Linked DNA regions of Homo sapiens: all the other regions are linked to region 2. Evidence: fine-mapped expression QTL. A gene starts in region 2. Each other region holds a variant in brackets. All regions are shown on one strand. Distances are from middle to middle.

Region 1 (8,189 bases), 69 kb before region 2:
TATAAGTCACATATGGTTCTCATGGTAATCGTGAACTTTCTCCCCCTCACCTTTATCATAAATTTAAAAATTCATGGGGCCTATACATATCTGGGAGTTCTGATCATATAGCCTTCAATTGAAAAAACTTGGGTACATTTACAATTCTATGATTTACTGTATGATTTAAACAATTCTATTATTTACCTAAAACAGTAATGTAAAAGTGAGTCTTTTGAAAACTTATGCCTAGTTTTATGTTTAAATTTGAATTGATTTGTTCTTCTTCCTCCTTATTTTAAAATAGGAATTTAGTGATTGACAATGGCAGAAAAAATCCTAGAGAAGTTGGATGTCCTTGATAAGCAAGCAGAGATAATCTTGGCCAGAAGAACAAAGGTTTGTGACGTATAAGCTACAATTCAGTTTAATCATTAACAGGTTAACATTTCAAATGTGAATAATTTTACTTTTTAGCTAATGATACATTAATATGATATAAACTAATTTGTAAAAAGCAACTAATTATACTAGTTGAAAATGTAATGTATACAAATATAAAAATTTTATTGCTGATGTACAAAGTTTCAACGAATCATCCCATGAAGGGCTTTTGGATTGTTTTGACGATTTTACTAGTAAAAATAAAGCTGCTTAAAAAATAAAATAAAGCTGCTATGGACATTTGCATCCAGGTTTGTATGAACATGAGTTTCCATTTCTCTGAGGTAAATGCGTGAGAGTGTGATTGCTGGTGCGATCTTTCTCTTAACTTTAGCGAGATCAAAGCCGCAAGATTTGGTTTGAGTTCCCCCAATCCAATGGGTTTCTCCTCCCTGCACCTCAGCCCTGAAACCACCTCCAGGAAGTAAGCTGGGCTATTAGAGGGTAGACCTCAGTTATTTCCCTTCTTTCAGCGATCTGTCCTACTCTGTTTTCTAATAGCTGGGGGCAGTTGTTTTCATATATTTTGCCTGAGCTCCTAGTTGTTGAGAGCAGGAGACTAATTCCCATAGTGCTCCATCTATTGGCAGAAGCAGAAGTCCCCCATATCCTTTGATTTTGCTTTCAGGGTTTTCATCTCTTTATTCTTTTGAGCTATGCTCTGAGATAATTTTTTAGAGAAAACTTTCGGCTCCTTTACTCACCTTTTAGCTAGATCCTTTTTCTTCTTCAATCCATTTGTATAAGGATTTTAACAAAGTCCTCTTTTGATTACTTTCTTCACTCTATTTCTGGCTCTCACGACTAGAGGAAGATTGGTGTGATTCATCGTGCGTGTGGCTACAGGAAGAGGAGCAGGCTGGAGGGACATGCCTACTATGGTTCCAAGAACTCTATGTATCTAAATATGTAGATCTTTCCTTAAATTCTGTACTTTAGAATTAGGAGGGAGCCTTAATAATCCTCAAGTCCTACCCCCACATTTTACAGATGGGAAAAGAACAACTCAGGTCACACAGCAAAGGCATAAAAACAGTTGGTGCACTAGACCCCCAATTTTCAGTCTGTACTATTTTTCCATTATTGCCTGCCACCTAAATTCTGTGTGTGTGTGTGTGTAAAGTGAGATTTTTTTTCTTTCCACCTAAGATTTTCCCCATATAAAAAGTACTCTTTTTTTTTTTTTTTTTTTCACTTTGGCATTGCTGCAGATAAACAGGCTTCAGAGTGAAGGAAGAAAAACAACTATGGCTATACCCCTGACATTTGATTTTCAGTTGGAATTTGAAGAAGCTCTTGCTACATCCGCGTCTAAGGCAATATCAAAGATCAAAGAAGACAAGTCATGCAGCATTACAAAATCAAAAATGTAACTATCATAACCACCTTAAATTTTCAGTTCAGAATTTGTTTGTTTGTTTGTGAAACAAGGACTCACTCATTGCCTAGGGTAGAGTGCAGTGGTGCAAACATGGCTCACTGCAGCCTCAACTTCCCAGGTTTAGGTGATTCTCCCACCTTGGCCTCCAGAGTAGCTGGGACTACAGGCATGCACCACCATGCCCAGCTAATTTTTTGTATTTTTTATAGAGATGGGGTTTTCCCATGCTGCCCAGGCTGGTCTTGAACTTCTGGCCTCAAGAGATCCACCCACCTAGGCTTCCCAAAGTACTGGGATTACAGGCATGAGCCACCTCACCTCGTCCAGTTCAGAGTTTTAAAACATTACTTTATATCTGTCTTAGATTATGCAATGTATATTAAATGAAAGTTTTATGGCATATGTTATAAGGGTTATGAGTTAAAATATACTAGATTAGCTTTCTGAATATTTCTAGTTTATAAAATATTTATTATGTATAATATTTTACTAGTGTAGATGGTAATTACAATTGTGAATTTTTAAAGGAAGGCTTTTCTTGAGCTCAATTATATTGCCCCAAATTAATGTCAGGATTTATTGCAAACTTTAACTGATATACTTAAGAAAAAGTCTGCCTAGAAAACTAAGTAAGGCAATTTCTCTGTGCACTTAAAAGGGACAGCCTAAATATGTCATACTTGGTCTTTCACTGGCATTTAGTACTTGCATAATGCTATAAAATTTTTCCAAGCACATCAGAATTGTAAAGGAGAGTTCAGAAAAAAGAAGTACAAAGATGTGGAATCAGTAGAACTTCAAATTAATTGGACATTGGTAGTAGTGTGGATACTGTCCTTATCTCATTTATTCTGGGTAACAAGTTTTCCTCACTTGTTCTGTGCCTAAGTACAAAGCACTACTGTGCACCCAGTTGCCAAGCCCAAAAGCTCACAGTCATCCTATTGAATAGGGTATAGTAATGATGAAGAGAGCACAGGCTCTGAAATCAGACTGCTAAGGTTTAAATCCAGCCTTGCTACTTGTTAGCTATGTGACCTTGATTTTCACACATAGTTTAGACAGGCAGCAGCTATGACACTATGCACTAGGCAGCCCACGTGAGCACTATGACATTTGTGGGCCGGGCATGGTGGCTCACGCCTGTAATCCTAACACATTGGGAGGCTGAGGTGGGCGAATTGCCTGAGGTCAGGAGTTTGAGACCAGCCTGAGCAACATGGTGAAACCCTGTCTCTACTAAAATATATTTTTAAAAAATTATCTGGGCTTGGTGGTGCATGCCTGTAGTCCCAGCTACTTGGGAGGCTGAGGCATGAGAATTGCTTGAACTCGGGAGGCAGAGGTTGCTGTGAGCTGAGATCATGCCACTGCACTCCAGCCTGGGCAACAGAGCAAGACTCCATCTCAAAAAACAAACAAACAAACAAACTATGACATTTGCATCTAAGACCACTCCTACTTACTTACATTTTCATGTAAGTATTCTGATTAAGGCCTACCACCTGATTGTCTCGAAGCAGCTTTCTTCATGTAGCAGTTTTGTACTATTGCTCAGAGTGAAACAAACTTTTGTAGCCCAATGTTTTAGTGCAGTTTTACAGATGAAAAACCTAAGTCTGGGTGAGGTTAAACAATTTGCACAAGGTCATACAGCTAACAAATTGAAAGGCTGGATTTGAACCTTAGAAGTCTGATTTCAGAGCCTGTGTTCTTCATCACTACTGTACCCCATTCAATAGGATGCCTGCAAGCTTTGGGTCTTGGTAACTAGGTGCATTGTAGTGCTTTGTACTTAGGCAGAGACCAAGTGAAGAAAAGGAGATTGGGGTGGATAAGAGGATCAAAGTGAGAAGGGCTGGGATTTATTTCATAGATGTTAAGTTTTAGATGCCCATAGGCATCTAAACATTCAGGTAGAGATATCTGGAAGAAAGCTGCCACCATTGATGAAACCGTGGCAGGCAAACTTGTTAGCTCGTAAGTAGGGTCAAATCTCAGACTCTTAGTGGTTTTTAACACCTACTTCTAGGGAAGCTTAGGAGTAGAATAACTGATACTTGGATCCTCCTTAGAAACTGTGGTAAAAGTAATTGTATCTCAGTCTTCAGTGAGTTATAGAACACCCTTATCCAGGTCCCTGTCAGCCTAGAAGGAAACTTTATATCCATTTTATCTATCCTACAATTCTATCTGCTTCTAGATAGCAGAATTTATAATTTAGTTATACCTCAGCCAAATAAAAAAATTTT[A/G]TATAATAAAATGGAAACTTCAAAAAATATGACAAGAGACAAATAAACTAGAAAAGAAAGTCAAGATCAGTTGAGGACAGGATTTGTGTATAACTAATCTTATAAATCAAATGTATAATACTTAGTTTTTAATTCAATACATTGCTTATAAACCATGTTAAGTATGCATTTGTTGGAGGACTAAAAAAAAGAAAAGCTGTCAATCTCCCAGTATGTTCACCAAACTTTGGCTTTCCTCTCATAAGCGCACTGAACTTTTATTTTTATTTATTTTTTTTTTTTGAGATAGAGTCTTGCTCTGTTGTCGCCCAGGCTGGAGTGCAGTGGTATGATCTCGGCTCACTGCAACCTCCCTCTCCCGGGTTCAAGCGATTCTTCTGCCTCAGCCTCCCGAGTAGCTGGGACTACAGGCATGTGCCACCACACCCGGCTAATGTTTTGTATTTTTAGTAGAGATGAGGTTTCACCATGTTGGCCAGGCTGGTCTCGAACTCCTGACCTCGGGTGATCCACCCGAGGCCTGACAAAGTGCTGGAATTACAGGAGTGAGCCACTGCATCCAGCCTAGCACACTGAACTTTTAAGAGTACTTGGGAAACTTAGTATGTTTAACACCTCCCAAAAGAATGTTAAAATGACCACAGTTTGCAAAATTGAAGAGAAAACAATGGCAACATAAGGCACAATATTGGTAATCAAGAAGAAACTATAGCCATGGATATGGAAGACATTAAAATAATTATAATGAATGCTTTGTGTAACTACATTGCTTTGACACATGGGTGTAATAATGGATGAACTTTTGGGAAAATATGAAAGGGAAAAATCTCAACAAAAAAGAAAACATAAATAGATCAATAACTGTAGAAAAATTTGAGGAAGCAGTCAAAGAATTCTTTTACAAAAGTACCACTTTGAAGCTGTGTCAAAGGTGAGTTTCTTTGTAGTTTCAAAGAACTATTTAAATAGTTTTGGAACACAGACAAAGGTGGAACAGTTCTCAGTTCTTTTCTGCAAAGGTAGATTTGATCCTTAAGTCTGACCACAAGAATAGAAAGCAAATATAGATTTTTAAAGAAATATAAAATAAAATGTTAGTTTTAACTATTTCATTGCTTATTCTTGATTCAGGGACATAAAAACATAAAGCAGCCCAGCCATGGTGGCTCACACCTGTAATCCCAGCACTTTGGAAGGCCGAGATGGCCTGATCACCTGAGGTCAGGAGTTCAAGACCAGCCTGGCCAACATGGTGAAACCCCATCTCTACTAAAAATACAAAAGTTAGCCAGGCATGGTGGCGGGCTCCTGTAATCCCTGCTACTCGGGAGGCTGAGGCAGGAGAATAGCTTAAACCCTGGAGGTGGAGGTTGCAGTGAGCTGAGATTGCACCATTGCACTCCAGCCTGGGCACCAAGAGTGAAACTCCATCTCAAAAATAGTAATAGTAATAAAGCAGTTTTATATTTCTCTAATTTCATCCTGATCACTTTGGTTATTAAAAGTCTGTCCAACTTAGTATTTTGATCTCACCCCTCGTCATGGCTTTCCCGTCCCTATACAAGCCAGTCTAATGACACAGGGAGCTGAAATGGAGAGGGGTATGGTCAGCAATTTGATTACTCCTGTTCCCTCAACTGAGAGTAGGAGGTTGATATGGCCTTCTTCTAGCACAACTCCTCCTCACTCTTCTTCTAATTTCTTTTTTCTCTTATATGGGTACAGTGGTGTGCTAAAGCCAGCTCCTACCAATTCATTAGAGCTGCTTGTTGAATTTTCAGCAATTTTGTGAGATGTTTATTAAACACTCACCATTAAAAATTAAATTATGTAAACTTAAAATTCAATGGCATACCAAAAATAAAGATAATACTCAAAACTCATCACTTCCTAATTATTGTATATTTTACTATTATTCATGGTTTTGAAGTTATTTACATCTACTATATTCATATGGTAGAAATTTGTATAACAGTATGCTACTACACATCTCTTCCAAATTTCACATTTAATTATATCACATTGGTAGAAATTGACAACGGGAGTATTTACACCACAGCAATTGGCAAACACTACAAATCAAGGCTTGAGTCGTTGTCTGTCTAGATTTAAGAAAGTGAGGAAGAAAATGTTAATGATGAAGATTAAACTTAAAAGTAAGTCTTACCAAAAAAAGTATGCCTTACCTATAGCCATTATGCTTTGAATAGCATGAAAAATAAGGAAATATTCAAAAACTATTATTTGGTTCAGCAAAAAAGTAGCTTACACCATCGATGAATGAGTAAAATTCCACATTAAAACTACACCCAAAGGCAAGGTTATTAAAATTTTACCAGCACATCCTCCTGTATGGGAGTAAAGGAGGAGGGAGAGAGAAGAAGACAAAAGTTCTTATTTCTTTCTGGACACTGTTTCCAACTTTTCCCTTAGTCATCAATCATTTTCTGGCCAACTTTAGTCATAAAGAGCACATATGAGAGATCCTCAGAGGAACACATTCTCCAACCAAGGAGAGCAGCTACAACTCTTCAAATTCTCCATCAACTCCTATACTCTCCAATATACTCCACAATTTCTTCTGCGAAGGATCCCCAGGCTTTCAGTCAGCAATCTGGGTAGAGTATCAGCAAATTGACCCAAACACAGTTACTACCTCAGTATCCATTTGACCCCCTATATTAGTCAGTTCAAGCTGCTATAAAGAATACCATACCCTGGGTGGTTTAAATAAATTTATTTGTCATAGTTCTAAAGGCTAGGAAGTCCAAGATCAGTGTCTGGTGAGGACACTCTTCCTGCTTTGCAGACAGCTGTCTTCTTCTTGTATCTTCACATGGCAGAGAGAAAGAGACAGATAGCACCTCTCTCATGTCTTATAAGGGCACTAATCCCAATCATGAGGCTACACCCTCATGACCTAATTACCTCTTAAAGGCTGCACCTCCCAAAACCATAACTTTGGGCATTTAGACTTCAATATATGAATTTGAAGGGGGGGATGCAAATATTCAGTCTGTAGAATTCCACCCCTGTCCCCCCCAAATTTACATCTTTCTTACATGGAAAATACATTCATCCCATCCCAATAGATCCAAAATTCTTAACTGGTTCAGCATCAACTCTAAAGTCCAAACTCTCAACTAAATATCATCTAAATCAGATATGGATGAAACTTGAGGTAAGAGTACCCTGAGACAAAATTTCTCTCCAGTTGTGAACCTGTGAAGGCAAACAAGTTGTTTGTTTCCAAGCTACGTTGATGGGATAGGTGTAGGATAGACATTCTCATTCCAAAAGGGAGAGATAAAAAAGAAGGGAGAAATGACAGGTCCTGAATAATTCTAAAACCATGCAAGCAAACTCTATGAGATCCTAAGGTTTGAGAATAATCCTCTTTGGTTCAAAGCTCTGCCCTCTAGATTCACTAGACTAGTGGTCCTGCCTCCAGAACCCACTCAGGCAGGGGTCTCACCTCTGAAGCTCTGCCTAGCGGGAGTTGCACACCCATGGCTCCACTGGGCAGGGGTCTTACCCTTTGAAATAGAAGTGGAGGCAGCCCTGTCCCCTGAGCACATGCCCTCTGGGCCTGTTGTGGGAGTGGCATCCCTGATTATCTTTGAATTGCTTTTGAGGTCCTTCTTCCCTTGTCTTGAAAAATAGTGCACAGTTATAGCTGAACAGCTGCATACAGTAGCTCTATGATCTGGTCCTGTAGAATCTAAGAAGTTCAACAGTTTTCTTTCATTTTTTCCCACTTTCTCTGTTTCCCTTAGTCCCAGCTGGCAGTGTTTCTGCTGGTATAATCCCATCTCTATTCCTGGCTTCTGTTGAGATGGCTGATTTGGTCCTTGTTACACATCCACACTGACCTACCTATCAAACAGTCAACTTACTATACCTTTAGTGTTCTCTCCCAAGCATACTTTTTCATTCTTTTGTAATATGAGCAGGCTGAAAATTTTTCAAATCTTTAACTTCTGGTTCCTTTTTCCTTAATAATTTCATCTTCAATTCATTTCTTTCCTCTTGCATTTTACTATAAACATCAGTAGGAACCAAATCACTCCTCAACACTTTGCTTAGAACTAACGTCAGCTAACTATCCAATTTCATTGCCTGCAAGTTCTGCA
Region 2 (8,189 bases):
AGGTCTTGTCCATCTGCCCCAAAGGAGGCAGGAGTGTCCAGTGGAGGAACACAGAATAAATGCTAAACAGACCTAGGACCGAATCTGTACACAGTCACTTAGAGCTGTGGGATGCAGTGTATGTCTAATACTCCCTCTCAGCCCTTGTTTTCCTGTTTATATGTTGTTTCACCATACCTGCTTCTCACAGTGGTTAGGGTGAAATGAGATAATGAATTACAAGAGAAGCACATTGTGAGGCTCATCATCAGTGGACAATAAGTTCATTCTTTGCAGTCCAATGTAGAAAAGTACAAGGCACTGCAGAGAAGAGAAGCTCCATGCTGATTCTCAGAATTTTTAAAGTATTGTTCAAATAGGAAACATGTATGACCTTTGCTCCTTGACTATAAAGTAACCAGCTGTGCAGCACAGCAGGTCACTGGGTATGATCTAGGTTGGCAGTGAAATAGGAAACTGGTGAATGCAGGTGGATAACAAAAGAGGCCTATATACATTCCACTATGAGAGGAGCAAGTGGGCCAAGGAAAAGGGAGAAGCGTGGAGAAAAGAAGTAATATAAGCTATGTTTTAAAAAACTGTGTACAGAATCAATATTCCCTCAATGAAAAACAGGATACCTAACGGCAATGTTTTGATAAAAAGACATCATTTAATACTAAGAAGAGTTTTTGCTAGTAATTCTACCCAGTAAGATGTAAAATTTATCAACCCACAAAGTTGACCTTTCCAAATAGAGTACACTTGTACCTAAGTGAGAACATTTAATTCAGTCTTTCTTATCTTGAACAACTTTTTAAGATATATTTCAATATTTATTCAGTTTCACCCAATGATGTGTAAATACTCCATATATAATTCTGTGATTAATATTACTGAAGTGAGGAAACAGATCTGAGGACCTAAAATACCAAAATTTACCCCAAAGTCTAAGTACCTATAACATGGGAAAGAGATAAAAATCCTACTAGAGATGGCACCTATCTTATCTTTGTGGGTACCTAATGAGAATGCTTGACTCCATTAAACTCTATAGCATTTTACTGGGGGTCCACAGCAACCAAATCATTACTGGAGCTGAGAAAATCCAATGCAGTTCATGGCCTGTGATAGGTCTTAAATATTTGTTAATTAATAAAGTAATCATGCTGAGAAAAACAGTAGTTGCCTGGATCAGCACTCTTATTTTTATTTTCTGTAATCATAACTTATGATTTTGAAAATTTGTACCTGGCATTTCATACTTCCACAGGGTAGAACTTGAAATATTATCTCACCTCTTCCATTGTTCTCCATTGCTGCCCTCTTGACTTTATAAAAGAGGGTTTCATTTTCATACCGTGTTAGCAGGAATAAAAAATGAGTATAAACTCTTTGGAGGTTGTTAATTTGGAATTTCCTCAATTCTATTAATTTTTTTATTAAAAAGTAGCCTTAACTAAGCAATTCTACTTCTAGAAATTTATACTTGCACAAAGTTGAATGGACAAGCATTGTTTGTACACTGAAAAATGGCAATAACTTAAATGTCTATAGGGTTACATGATGATGCATCCAACTAATGGAATACTCTGAAGCCTTTGAAAAGAATGAGGTTAAGTTTAAGCGTTGCCACAGAAAGACCATCAAGGAATAGTAAGTGAAAAGAGGAAGACTGCCTAATAATACTAGTGATAACAGTAATTGTAATAAACACTCATATTATGTTCTAAGCACTTTACATTCATTAACTCATTTAATTCTCATTGTAACTCTATGAGGTGGGTACTATTGTTATCCCCATTTTACAGGTGAGGAAATTGAAGCACAGTGATGTCTAGTAATTTGCCCAAGGTCACAAAACTACTAAGTGTCAGCAGCAGTGTGTGGCTTGAGGATTAGTGTTCTTCTCTGGTTCTATTCCAGGTATGTTTTTTAAAATGTGTAAAAATGTGTATATATGTATATATTTGCTTTTTATTATGAGGGTCATTGTTACTTCTATAATATTTTTTCTGCAAGGATGTTTCTTAAAATACAATGTTTTAGTTATTTTTCCTTTTGAAGCTAGCAGTCAAGGAAGAAATTTAATCATTTTCCTTGTTTCCATTGATTCAATCAACTAAAATATCTAAACTGTGTTAGGCACCCTTGCCTGCCACTGTCCTCAAGAAGCAACTGTCTAGTGGAAGAGAGTGATATGTAAACATGTAATGCAGAGCCCCTTTGCTACGGTCTGTATGTGTCCTCCAAAATTCATATGTTGAAACTTAATCACCAATGTGATATTATTAAGAGGCAGGCCCTTTAGGAGGTGACTAAGTCATGAGGGCTCTGCCTTTGTGAGTAGGATTCATGCCTTATGAGAGAGGTTTCACACAGTGTTTGTCCCTTTCTGACCTTCTGTCCCTTCTGCCATGTGAGGACATGGTGTTCTTCCCCTTCAGAGGATGCAGTGGTTAAGGTGGCACCTTGATCTTGGACTTCTCAGCCTCCAGAAGTGTGAGAAAATAAATTTCTATTTTTTATATGTTATCCAGTCTCAGGTATTTTGTTATAGCAGCAGCAGCAGATGGACACTCTATAAAGGGGGTATATAAAGATGCGGTAGGAGAGGCACAAAGGAGAGAGATCAATTATGTAGAGGGAAGTGGGGGGCAGTGTGAAGGCTGCCCAGAGAAGAGGTAATGTTCTGCCAAAATACGGAAGGAAATGTAAGAGTTTTTCAGGAGCTGGGTGAGAGGAGGAAGAGAAAAAGCAGCCCAGATGGAGGGAATAATGGGAGTAAAGACACAGAAGCCGGAACCCACATTGTTGATTTATCTGCACCTTAGGGGAGGGAAACGTGAATAGTGCCTCTGGAGATGTGGGTAGGAACCACATTATCTAGGACCTTGTAGGCTATGTTAAGAACCTCATCCTGTGTACCAGTTTTTTAAGAAACACTTGAAGAACATAGGTGTTCTCAAAGTAACTCAAAAGATATAAACCAATTATACACATATAATTTAATATTATTCAGCCTTAAAAAGGGAGGACATTCTAACATATGCTACAACGTGGCTGAACCTTGAAGACATTACGTTAATGAAGTAAGTTCATCACGAAAGGACAAATACTACATGATTCCACTTATATGAGGTACCTAGAGTAGTCAAATTCACAGAGACAGAAAGTAGAACACTGGTTAACAGCAGAGAGGGAAGGAAGTAGGGAAACAGGGAGTGATTGTTTAAAGGGGAAAGAGTTTCACTTTGGGATGGTGAAAAAGTTCTAAAGATGGATTAGTGATGATGGCTGCAAAACGATGTGAATGCAGTTAATGCCATGCAATTGCATACTCAAAAAGGGTTAAAATGATAAATTTTATACTTTGTATATTTTGCCACAATTTATTTCTTTCTTTAAGATGGTCTTGTGCTGTTGCCCAGGCTGGAGTGCAGTAGTATGATCATAGCTCATTGCAGCCTTGACCTCCTGGGCTCAAGCCATCCTCCCACCTCAGCCTCCTGAGTAGCTGGGACCACAGGCGTGCGCCACCACATCTGGCTAATTTTTTTATTTTCTTGTAGAGAGAGGGTCTCACTTTGTTGCCCAGCATGGTCTCAAACTCCCGGGCTCAGGCATTCCACCTGCTCCCAAAGTGCTGGTATTACAGGTGTGAACCACTATACCTGGTTTACCAAAATATAAAAATAAGAAAAAAAAAAAAAAGAAATTTAAAAAGATACAGACCAAGCACTTAGAAAAATAATTCAAAGTTCTTCTTTCCTAATCTATTAAAGTTCAATACGTAATTTCTTTGCTTAAACCGATCATAATGATTTGCTTCTGTTATACAATAATGACTACCATTTACCGAAAACTAGCTCTTTGCTAGCTACACATCCACAGAGATCAGGTTCAGGGAGGTCATCTAATTGGTCCAAGACACACAATAAGGAGTGAGTGTGTTGGTGGGGGGGGGGGGGGTCGTCATTTCTAGGAATCCTACAATTGGAAATCAAGTCTTTTAGGCTCCAAACACCTTGTGCTTTCCCCAATCCCCAAGCTGCTTATCTTGCTACTTTTTGGGATATGTCAACATTTTTCTTAAAACAAACAAACGAAACTTCTCAATCTGAAAAGTATTGTTTGGTGTTTTCTGGGTTCAGAAAATGTAAGAAGCCTGAGGCATTGCGGAATGAAATTTTCGTTGAGTGTTTACTGTTGATCCACATCTGATACTTTTGAAGGGTTTTTACCCCCTGCAAGAGAGACTAAAAGAGCATTCAGAATTAGTCTAGACGCAGTGTACTGTAACTACTTGGCCGGCCACCTGTAACAGAGGGGAGGAGGGTCTGCACTTAGTTGCGGCAGTTATCCGGAGAATACGGCCTTCCAGCCCCTCTGCCACCAGACTCCCCACGCCCCAGGTACGCGCCCCGCGGAGAGACCCAGCGCGTGCTCGTGCGCAGGCGCAGGGCGACTGTCACCCGGAGTCTGTGGTTTGTCGCCCGGCGCTCTGGTGTCTCGATGTAGTTCCCCTGGCTTCTCCTTATCCGCCTCGGGCAGGGGGGTCGCCACTGCCCCTTCTCCAGGCTCTCTCCAACCCCTGCCCAGGCTAAGCCCGGCGCGGCCCTACTCTCTGACCCCGCGTTGCACAATGCCCGAGCAAAGTCTCCAGGGGTGTGAACCCCGGCGTCCCTGCCCCTGGGCGGGGACAGGCGGCGGCCAAGCGGGGAGTCGAGGCGGCGAGCGCGCAGCTGGCCTAGTCTGCGGTCCCCAACTCCTGGAGTCCCCTGGGAGCTGCCGCTGCAGGCCCCCGAGCCGCTAGGCCCCGCCGCCAGGCCACCGCTGCTGCGGCAGCCATGGCGGAAGTTCATAGACGTCAGCATGCTCGGGTTAAAGGAGAAGCCCCCGCGAAATCCTCCACACTCCGAGATGAGGAGGAGCTGGGGATGGCGTCGGCCGAAACGCTGACCGTGTTTCTGAAGCTGCTGGCCGCCGGCTTTTACGGCGTGAGCTCCTTCCTGATCGTGGTGGTGAATAAGAGCGTGCTCACCAATTACAGGTAGGGCCGAGGCGGCGGCGGCCCAGGCCGCGGAGGAGGAGCGGGCGGCGGCGGCGGCGCGGCGCCGGCTCCCTGGACTTTGACTGCCAAAGTTAAAGCCGAACAAAGTTGGGCGGGAGCTGGGGAGGGCGGGCGGCTGACGCGCGCGGCCCGGGCAGCGGAGCCGGCCTGGCGAGCGGGCCTGTGGCAGGGGTCCGCTCCCTGCGCGGAGCTCCGGCCGGCCCGGCACATTTGGGGCTCGCCTGCCATGCCCTGGGCGCACCGCCCCGAAAACCCTGCCCTTCAGAGAGATGGAGCAAAGTGATTTGCTTGGTGACTTTTGAGCCGTTATGCCTGTCGATCAGGGAGGAGAGCGAGGGAAGCCTCCCTCCTCCGCAGCCTGGACAGGGGGCCGGGGCTTCAGTGTCCCCTGCACCCGCTGACAGCCTCTGGGGACGTACGCATCCTCAACCCAGCAGACAATTATTCCCTTGCTAACACTGGGACCCAGAGGCAGAAGTTGGTTGTTTTTTTTTTTAAGGTGTGTGAAATCGTTGCAGAGATCTGTATCTGCACTGCCTTGAGAAATCCTTTGCAGGCAGCGGACTGAAACTGTAGACTCGGACAAGATGGGACAAGCGGCCGCCCGAGGCTACATCAGCGGGGTGGACTGACAACCAACAGGCAGAGAGTTTTCTCCCAAGATTTTTGTTTGATTTAGGGGCGGACGTTGATGTGGCTTGTATCGGAATGCCTTATTAACGTTGCCGATGTGCAAATTGAATTCACGGAGCTAAGTTAGGTTTGTTCTGATCTTGTTTTTTTCTTTGCCCTTTTTGTAGATTTCCCTCCTCACTATGTGTTGGACTTGGCCAGGTTAGTTGGAATCCTCACCATTACGTGGTTTATGTTGTTAGAACTTCTGTGTGTGTCTTTATGTGTAGAACAGTGAATCTGTGTTCTCTTGTTTACAGATGGTGGCCACAGTGGCAGTTCTCTGGGTGGGAAAGGCGCTCAGAGTAGTCAAGTTTCCTGACCTTGACAGAAATGTACCTCGAAAGGTAAAAGAAGAAAAGCGATACTTTATTTTGTGAAATGAAGTCAGTATGTATTAACATATTTTATCAGTGCCTTGCGTATTTAAAAATTGCAGCCTCAAAATTGCCCAGTCTAGAGTGGTTATAATGAATGTAAAGAATAAAAGTAGTAATATGTGTCAAAGAAGGCCTACAGTCTCTTTAAACTTAAGAGAAAAAATAACCTAGGAATATTCTTCTGTTTTTAATTAATGCACACTTGTTGAGAGTACAATAGTTTTGCAGTTTCTCTATCCATCTAATCTAGCCAGTGTATCCTGCATTCATTATTCTTTGGGCTTATTTTATACTGTCTGCCTCTGCTTGACTCCAAACGAAGATGAAATGCCTTTACTTTTTCTGCTGACAATAGAGCCATGGGCTCTAATACATTATCATATTTTACAGCAAATGATGTTTCTGTCTCACATTGATCATATTCATATTTCTGTCTTTTCTCCCTGCCTTCCTCCCTTTCTTTCTGCTATAGTAATGTTGTTTATCCAAGCATAAGTTTTGTTTGGGTGTTTGGGTGTCAAAATTGTGTATGATAACTAATTTTACGTTTTAAGTGGAAAAAATTTTGATCATATAAACAAAATTGTTTCTGTTTGAAAGGACCTTGTTTTAGCTATCTTTATTATTGAGTTTTGTTATCCCTTTTTAAATTTTCTAGACGTTTCCACTACCTCTACTATATTTTGGGAACCAAATCACGGGACTGTTCAGCACAAAGAAACTGAAGTATGGATAACTTTATTTTACTAGTGAGGTTAATATAATGTATTCTTAAAATTGTACTTGAATGTCAAATATTTAACACATTGTTATTGATTCTGGAAAAAAATGAAAGGACCAGAAAGCTTCTATTACTACTAAATAATGAAAGTGGTGCCAAAGGTTTTAGTTTATAGTTTATGCTCTTTTCTTTGAAGAGAAAGAGGAGTTTTTTGTTTTTGTTTTTTTACCCCTCATTTTGATGTTAGAAGTCTTAAAATGTTATAAAATGCTATGATAGGAAATTTTTATTATTTTTCTAGAGCCACAATAGTGAAGATATATACTAGGCTTCTGGGATTTCAGTTCTTTAGTATAGTTCATAAATATTTTAGGCAACTTCCACACAGCAAAATTAGAGGGTAGGCACAAGAACTTTTGCAGTTTTTCTTTTAATGTGAAGTAAGGTAACATCAGCTAGAACCCTGATAAAAATATTATTAATATCTTACACATGGCATGTAACTGTAGAGGCAACATACTTATTTTCAGAAAGAAGCAATAGCTCTCCTCTCCATGGTAACACTGTCTTTCCCTCTAACCTCCCGGTTTCTGGCTTCTGCTCTTATTGTAGTGTACATATCGGTTGTGTGTGGTATTAAAATGACACAAATAGAGAAAACATTTAACAGAAACCCCATGGCTTCACCACTACCACACAAGCTAAAACCCTGGCATTGTAAAATAGAATGGAGAGATTTTTGAGCATCAAGGACAAGGTGTTTTTCATTTCTTCCTTTAAAACCCGAGAAACCTGACAGAATGACCGAGATGATATCTCTGAAGAGGGTTCCAAGGAAGTCAGATTTATCATGGGTGGGACATTTTTTTCCATTTCATTACCCACCAGGAAAGAAATGCAGGCCTTCTGCAAAGTGCTGCTTGTGTAGAGTTTGCTTTTTTTCATCCATCTCATCCAACCATTCATTCACACCTATCTTTGATTGCCAGCTAAGTATAAGGCACTTTGGAGTGAGATAAGATATATTCAGAAATAACTATATTGCAAGAGGCTGTATGTTTGATTAGTACAAGCAAAATGCTCTGGGAATTTAGATGAAGACAAAATTACATCCACAAAAGGACAGTCAAGGCATTTCATGGGGTAAGATTTTCATAGATGGTTTTTGGGTGGTCTAGGGGGTGGGAAGGGAGGTCAGACTAGTGAAAAAATGAGAAGGAAGCCTTTTTCTATTAAAAACTGACATATTTACAGCTTAGGGTTTTGCATAATTAGAATAAAGTTTTGTAGTTAATTTAATGTTTCTCACTTCTAGTAGTTTTTTAAAAGCAACTGTTGTAGGCTTTCAAGTAGGAATTGCTTC
Region 3 (8,189 bases), 36 kb after region 2:
TCTTATATAGTGCTGGTGAGAATACAAAATTGTGTAGCTACTTTGGAAAACAGCTTGGCAGTTTCTTACGAAGTTAAAGATACACCTAACCAAATGAACCAGCAATCCCATTTTCTAGCTATTTACCCAAGATAAATAAAAACATGTCAGTTGGGAGACTTGTAACGGAAGGTTCAAAGGTTCATAATAACTTGTGGAAATAACCCAAATAAGTGTCAATTACCTGGTGTTTGGATAAACAAATTGTGGTATACCCATAAGATAGAATACTAATTGGCAATAAAAATGAATGAATTACTGATACATACATAGGATGGATGAGTCCTAGGAGCATAATGCCAAGTGAAAGAGAAGGAAGACACTAGAGTACATGCTATACAATTCCACTTGTAGGAAATTGTTGAACAGCGAAGTTATAGTAACAGAAAGTAGATCAGAGGTTGCCAGGGGCTAGAAATGGAGGGGAGATTGACTCAATGGGGAGGAGGGAACTTTGGAAGGAGTTGATTTCTTTATCGTGATTGTAATGGTGGTTACATGATTATACATTTGTGACTACTCATTGAATTGAACACTTAAAATTAATTTATTTTTCATGTATTCTACCTCAACAAAGAACTATAAACAAACTGTCTGTCAAGCACTGTTAGGAATATGATTAGATAAATGTGATGTGGGTCCTCCCTTCAGGGAGTTCATTCTGTAGACATGGTATAGAAAGATTTACAGTTCGAAGAGACAAGAGCTCTAGAGAGGAGTACTGAGGCACAAAGGAAGGAGTACTTGATCAGGAAGGGCCCCACAAGGGAGCCTTGAGTTTTAATTTGATGGCTGAACAGGAGTCAGACGAATGTTGAGGGGAAGGACATTCCAGGCAAAGGCATGCAAGTAAGAAAGTGTATGGTATGTTTTATAAGCCACAGGGAGCCTGGTATTGTTGGAGCCCTGGTGCCATCAGATTTATGCGGAAGTAGCAAAAGTTGAAGCTGGACAGGTTAGCAGAGATAAAAAGGTGGAATGTTTGTCACATTTGCTTATCAAACTCCTATTGCAAAAACAACTAGGTACTTGAGAATCCATTCCTCTTGGACAAGAGATGAGATGATCAGTGTACCCTTTCATTTCTCTTTATTCCTTTCCTTTTGGCTTAACACAGACAACAACAACAACACAAAATACCTTGTTTTTAGAATGAACCGTTTTAAAACAGTAATTCTCCTTGAATAGACCTCAGCTGAATTTGTATAACTAAGGCTGTATTTAAGCTTTCACATGTTACAGAAAGGAAACATGTTTTAATGTTTGAGAAAGCCTTTAGTACTAGCACATTAATAGCCATCTGAAAGAACTGAGATTAGCCAAATGTGGCTTGTGCCTTCAAGGAAATACCAGTTTCTTTGCACCAATAGTGAGAAGTATAAAATCCCCACGTTACATTTTGGATGGGAGAAAATCTTATGAAACTACTTACTAGTTCAACTCTGTATACATGAAATCTTTGAACATCACTCTCTATCCTTGGAGTAATTCAGGGAAACATATACCTGTGTGTGTGTGTGTGTGTGTGTGTGTGTGTGTGTCTGTGTCTGTGTCTGTGTCTGTGTCTGTGTTGGAGGCAGACTCGTAGAAGGATTTACATTAAAACGGGATAGCTGATTTTGAAGGCCTGGTCTAAAATTTAATGCTTTCTTGTGTGTTGCAGGCTGTGGAGTTTGAAGGCTGGGCTGACACCCTCTTTCTTCTGCAGTTCACCCTCTCCTGTGTGATGGGGTAAGCCTTTGTTACCTTGTTAGCAGATAGTTTTCCTAAAGAAATAGGTTAGAGAAATTTGCATGCCTCTTTTCTCAATATCTTTAGGTCTCCTGAGTGTGTCAGCCTAGGATAATTAAGCCTCCAGATTCAGGTGGTTTCATAGCTCTTGGGAATGTGCTCTTAGGGCTACTGAATTGATACCTTAGAAGGATGAAGAAAAGAAAAAATTTACCTGATAACCTGCTGTTTAGTAAGCACCATTATATTTCAACATGCATTATATAGTTTTATCTCTATACTGACCATTTGACAGATAGAACTTTAGTAAATTGTCTAAATTTGCGCACTTTGTAGGTGGCAGTGGCAGCATTTGAATTTGGGGCAGTTTGACCCCTCTTTACCATGTTTTCTTCCTCATAGGAGAGAATATGTAGAGGTTAAGAGGATACCTGCAAACGTGCCTCTTATCCTCATGTCCATATTTCTCTAATGTGTTTTTTTTCCTCAGCCAGTCAGTTTAGTTGCTATTTGTGACTGGATCTGGCACACAGTGAGCAGGTGCTTCAAAATAAAGTTGACCTGATGCCTTGGTACTTAAGCTGAGAAGCCTCAGTGTAAATCAGAGAGTTCCAACTGCTGCCACTTAGTTGTTAAGTGAACCTGTATCCCCTCTTAAAGTAGTTTTAATTTGGTTTTCTTCAATATTTAAGGATCTCTCTTGTCTTCGTCTGGCCCAGAGGACATGTTGTCCTTATGGAAGGTGCACAACTGCATTTTAGGGTCTGTGAGCTCTGAGCTTTCTGTCTGGCTGGCTTAGGTGTATTAGTAGGAAGCATGATCTATAAAAATAGTCATGATTGTAAGAGATGGTTCAGGGTTTTGATGAGGGCAGCAAAGAAAAACTCTTGGTAAGGAGATGAATGTGTTTCTATTTAGTGAAATTTTAAAAATTCTGAAGCTGCAGTATAAGAAGCAGTGAGGTGGGGAAAATTCATAGCTGGTCAGTGACTAGAATGTGCTGGCTTGGCCAACACTGATTGTTTATCTTGGCTAGAGATTAGTATAAAGTGAGAAACTGGATTTTATACCTCTTTCTTCATTCTAGGTTTATCTTAATGTACGCCACAGTACTCTGCACGCAGTATAATTCTGCTCTTACAACTACAATAGTTGGCTGTATTAAGGTAAGTAGAAAAATACTGTTAGCTTTTGGTACCTGCATTATTTGAAAATTGTTCCTTTAAGATAAGAGTCTGTTGATGGCCTTAAGACCCAAATCGTTATTTCCTCACATACTGTCTTAGTTTGACAAATTGTGGTGATAGTTTCTGAAATATTCTTTAAGAATGCAGGGAGGGCATAGTCTCTACTTGGAGGCAGCTTAGCTCTGAAGAGCATGGGAAAAGGAAAATGTATTATCTGAATAGAGGAAGGAATAGAATTAGGTCTATTTCTGACAGGGCAGATTAATAGCTTGGTAGTGATAAGCCTGTCCCTTTAACCCCTAATGAGAACTGCTGTGTTCTCTGCCTCACTGAGGTCTGGCTGTTTTGTAGGGAAAGTATGCTGGCCAGAAGCTAATTGGGGGGGTTTTCCTATGCCTGAGCCAAACCTTAAATGGCTCACTTTTGAAAGCTGTGTCTGACATTTCCAATGATCTCATTTCCTCCTGATCCATTTTATTTGAGGCAGACTAATTTGTCTTCAGCCAGGAGAGCCAAGTTGACTTGAATATTGAGCTAAAGTTGGTGGCTTGAAGCCTGAGGCCTCTTTCATCTGACT[T/G]TGTGATTCTAGTGCTTTATGATTCAAGAGGCCACAGCTTGTCTGAATTCCAAATGAATTAGCCAAGTGGGCCTGCTTCCTTAAAAAGGCAAAACCCAGAGAGGTAGGTCCTTAACGTTTGGGGAAAAGAGGGCCATTACCCTTGTGACTTCCTTTCTGATGCCCCATTACTCAGTAGTGAGGGAAGAGATTTCAGAGGTCAAGTTTTTACTGCTCTGCTGTTTATCTTTGTAGTCTCAATAGAGTGGTGCCCACCTGATCTCAGTTTAGAGACTAGATTGGGTTAAAATCCAGAAAGTCTGTGGTTTCAAATCATGAAATTGAACTGTTTGCTGTGAATAGAATTCCAAATTAAGCTGTAACAGGTCAATTTGTGTGAATTCCTTTAGAAAGCTAGAGACAATCTATATGCCAGGGATTGGGCTGGCTGAGACAGTTTTAGGCCCCTCCCCCAAATTAGCTCTAGGTATGTTTTGGTTTTGTAAAGTGAATGCCTCAAGGGCAAAGTGGATGGCTTTCGTCTTCAGCATAAGAGTAGCGAGAATGTGAGAAATAGGCCATGTTTTTAGTTAAGGAGACGGATGATGCCGGAAAGCCTATGTTTAATTTTAATAAGTAAACCTATTTGCCTGGGATTTCTTAGTGTACTTTATCATTATCAACATGGGATACAAATAAAGTCATTCTTGCTTATATAAGGTTTATACTTTCCTTTTGATATATGTTTCTCCTCACAGTAGTCCAAGAACTCCATGGATTTACTCATTCCAGGGTGATTAATTTTACTTACAAACTCCACAGGGAGGCAAAAACTGAATTGTCTGATTAGTTCACTACTGTTCTTGCTTCATACTGGTGCAGGGTATCACTGTTGAAGGATGGCTTGCACATGCAGACAGATGGGAATCTGCTGATACCCTTGCAGGGTCGAAGTCTCACAGGATACAGTGCAGCTTCTGTCATTAGCATCCCAGTTATAACCCATTTAGCTCAGCCATTCCTCCTACAAGAGGCTTTAAGCTTCCTTCTGTGCTTGAGAATCCCCTGCAAATCCTTCGGTCAGCATTCCTTTTTCTCTTCAGCATGGTGGGAAAATCACTTAGGATAACTCATTGAAAGTAGAAATTCCAAGGCCTACCCAGATAGACTCAGTCAGAATCTCTAGAGTAAAGCTTAGAAATGTTTATGTTTAACAGGGTTTCCAGGCAATTGTCGGGTATACTAAAGTTTGAGAATTGCAGTCTTAGTTTTGAGCTATCATGACTCTTCTGTGCTTCTTGATAATTTCTTTTTTGAAGACGTTGGTGTCTTTTCTTGATAGCCAGCCTTGCTTAGGATACCCTAATATATACCTACAGGTTTTCCAACTTCTGATTTTGAGCAGCATGGGTTGGATTCTCTGTCACCTTCATTTCTGAAGTTCCTTGGGCAACTTACATAAATTAATCCACCTCCCTGGATCCCTGTATTCAAATGACGTCCTGTTATACACTTTCCTAAGTTGCCTGCTAGCCTTGTTGTTACATGATACTTAATTTTATTTTTTCCCTTCAAATAATAGGAAAATCCTTTCTAAGGCAACCTCCTGTCTTCATCCTTAGGCCTAGAAGAGGCTGACATAATTTTGAAGGTTCTCTCAAAGGGCGTTTTATTAGAAAAATAATTTTGAAGTTTCTTTTTGGCCTTTTTCAATGTATCAATTTACTTTGTGTCTCATAGGCCTAATCTAGAGGCCTGTGAGAAATAAGTCAGATAAATATATTTTGGGGTAAAATATTTTAATTTCCTTCAGTCCTCACTTTAAAACTTCATAAAGTTTTATATATTAAAAGCCATTTGGGCCAGAGGTCATCAGAGATAGACAAAGAAGTGAAAAAACAAATCTAGATAAGCAGAAAAGAGTAAATTTAAATGTATTGCCCCATATCTTTTTTAGTCATAGTCCTAAGAATGGATTAAACATTTGTGTCCCATTTTAGAAGGTGGCATTGTAGGTACACTAGGCCTCTGTGTATGATGAAGGGAAACAGATCTTTAATAAGAGATGTTTTTGTGGAAACAGAAGAAAAAACCAAGGTTAATGTCTGGAGTAGTGTATAGAGTTTTTTAGAGTCCTTGAGGTATCTTCAGATTGCAGTGGCAATCTGACAGATTTTACTGGATTATAGTTCAAATCAGCATTGAAGTGAACTTTCTGAGTATTCTATACATCAGTAGGCATGAAGGCTGTTTGTATTTAACTTCTGATTTTTCCTGAAGTTTACGTTGTCTAGTTTCAGTTTGTAGGGCTTTAAGAAAAGCACAGTTTCAACTTTCAGTGGCTTAAAGTCAAAAATGGAAGAAAAATTTGAAAATGTTAGTTTGGAAACTTGTAGCCAGGAAAGAATTCAGGTTTTAGTCTAAATATTAGAGAAGTAATAACAACAATAACAATTAATGAGGCTAGAATCTAATTTAAACAGATGTGCTATAGTTTTATTTGAAACATGATTTTTTTCTTCTAGTCTCCCATTTTTACCAAAGATAAATCATAGTAGGATTAATTTATTTGTAAAATAAATTTTAGTCTTATTGTACTTGGCCTGCTTATTTGTATAAAGTGTAATAAGAATAGCGATTGGCCATATAGGCTCTTCTTAGATTAGTTTTATTGGAACTTTTTAATAAGGAATCTTAGATTATTAGACTTTTAAAAGCCTCAAGGCCAGGAGGCTAAGCCAAGGATTTGCCACCAGACTCTAATACCTGTAACAAATTGGGTGAATCTTTCTCCTTTTGATATCATAAAATAACTCGAGGTCCCTTGGTCTGTCAGAAAGTTACATTTTTTAATCACAGGTCAGGAAACTTATAAAGGAACTGTGTAGACAAGGGTCTTTTTATTGGCTTTATAAAGTCAACTTTAATTTCTTCAAGTAGTCTGGTCATATCTGCAAATATGTTATTTTAGTCAAAGTATTGGTAAAATAACCAGTGTCTCTGTGTCCTATTACAAAGAAAACAGATGTGTATTGAACTTATCTAAATAATTATATTCTGATAAGTTAAGAATATTTATAAATAGTTTTTAAATTTGGAGAAATTAGTTAGAAAGATGTTTTAAATTTGTTCACAAAGTATATTTTACCCAATTGTTGTAAATTATAAATAGTTTAGAAGAAAAAAAAGTTTTTTGACTGGAAAACACAGCATTTTTTTTGAAGTCATAAAAATTAGTCTTTTACTAATGTAATTCCTTGTAATTCTTATACTGTTGGATGTTAGGTTAGCAATCCTCATGAATACATCAGTTTTTTAACTAGAATACTGAAAGTTTTTACCTAGTCTAATGGTCGGATCAATAAAGTTATCAGAAACCTATATTTACAACTACTTATCAGGGTCTTTTTTTATTAATTTCTCCGAAGAAGAAGCAAATTTTGGACTCTACCGATTGTAAACTACATTTCGAGAAGAATCAAAGTAAAACAATGATTGTCAATGGAAAACAAAAGTCTTAGAATAGTTAACAATTGACAAGGAAATTTGATTATTTCATTGACATGTACCAATTTAACATAATCATAATTATTACTGATAATATATCTGAAGACATTTCAAATCTTTAGGAATCTCATACAGGTTTAGAACATATATTAATAACACATTTATATAAATATAATGCAGAGAAAGTTAAGCACCATTTTTTTAATGATTTCCATTTGATTTTAACATACTAAATAAGGCTAATATGTTTCTCTTAGACTTCTAGGGGCCCTATTATCTAAAAAGTTAGTTTGAGGTCAAAAAAACTGAATTTGAAATTTTGATTTGGGGAAATATGTCAGATAACAAAGGTTTAAAACAGGATTGCAGGCCACTAAAAGATATCATTAGTCAACGTGATAATTTAAAGATTTTAAAAAGCAAAACCTTTTACTCTTGGTAGAGACTTATAAGACATAATAAAGATACCATGAGTCATACTGAATCTGTTTTTCCCTCTACCCCCTCTTTTTTGTAATTTATTTAGAAGGTAAATAAAATTTTAAAAATTATTTTTTATCAATAGTACATAAAAATTTTGTTTGAAAGAGAAAACTGCCTGGGCTTGGTGGCTCACGTCTGTAATCCCAGCACTTTGGGAGGCCAAGGCAGGGGGATCATTTGAGGCCAGGAGTTTTAGACCAACCTGGCCAACACAGTGAAACCTGTTTCTACCAAAAATACAAAAATTGGCTGAGCATGGTGGCATGCACCTGTAGTTCCAGCTGCTTGGGAGGCTGAGGCAGAAGAATTGCTTGAACCCAGGAGGGAGAGGTTGCAGTGAGCTGAGATCACGCCACTGCACTCCAGCCTGGGCAACAGAGTGAGATCCTGACTCAAAAAAAAACAGAGAAAATTCGATTTTATTTTTGTATTAGTGTATTATTAACATTAAAGTTAATTTTTAATAAAGCCTTGTAAATAAATCTATTTAATTTTAATTAGTTTGACCACAAGATTTTTATACGTTTTTAAATAGCCTCTTAAATTTAAACATTTTTAAAATTTTTTATTTTTGTTTTTTTAATTAAAAACTTTTTAAACGTTTATACTAGGCAAAATCTTTTTTTTTTTTTTTTTTTTTTACAAAAACACATTTTTATGTGTTTTATAACCTTTTTTACTAAAAA

Evidence for each region.
Region 1: its variant is fine-mapped to the expression of SLC35D1 in whole blood (TOPMed, PIP above 0.99).
Region 3: its variant is fine-mapped to the expression of SLC35D1 in whole blood (INTERVAL, PIP 0.99).

Annotation. Positions count from the first base shown.
Region 1 is chr1:67,119,355-67,127,543 of GRCh38, reverse strand. C1orf141 (chromosome 1 open reading frame 141) reads left to right here. Exons shown (of 8, transcript NM_001276351.2): 3 at 287-378; 4 at 1,635-1,792. The coding sequence starts at 304. Among named protein-coding and RNA genes, the nearest start is that of C1orf141, 12 kb to the left of the region's middle. The variant A/G (reference allele first, on the strand shown) is at 4,057.
Region 2 is chr1:67,050,654-67,058,842 of GRCh38, reverse strand. It overlaps SLC35D1 (solute carrier family 35 member D1), which reads left to right and starts at 4,695. Exons shown (of 12, transcript NM_015139.3): 1 at 4,695-5,032; 2 at 5,854-5,887; 3 at 5,986-6,072; 4 at 6,764-6,831. The coding sequence starts at 4,830. RefSeq lists silencers at 4,591-4,780, 5,071-5,280.
Region 3 is chr1:67,015,116-67,023,304 of GRCh38, reverse strand. SLC35D1 (solute carrier family 35 member D1) reads left to right here. Exons shown (of 12, transcript NM_015139.3): 9 at 1,703-1,770; 10 at 2,858-2,936. Among named protein-coding and RNA genes, the nearest start is that of SLC35D1, 35 kb to the left of the region's middle. RefSeq lists an enhancer at 1,963-2,761. The variant T/G (reference allele first, on the strand shown) is at 3,535.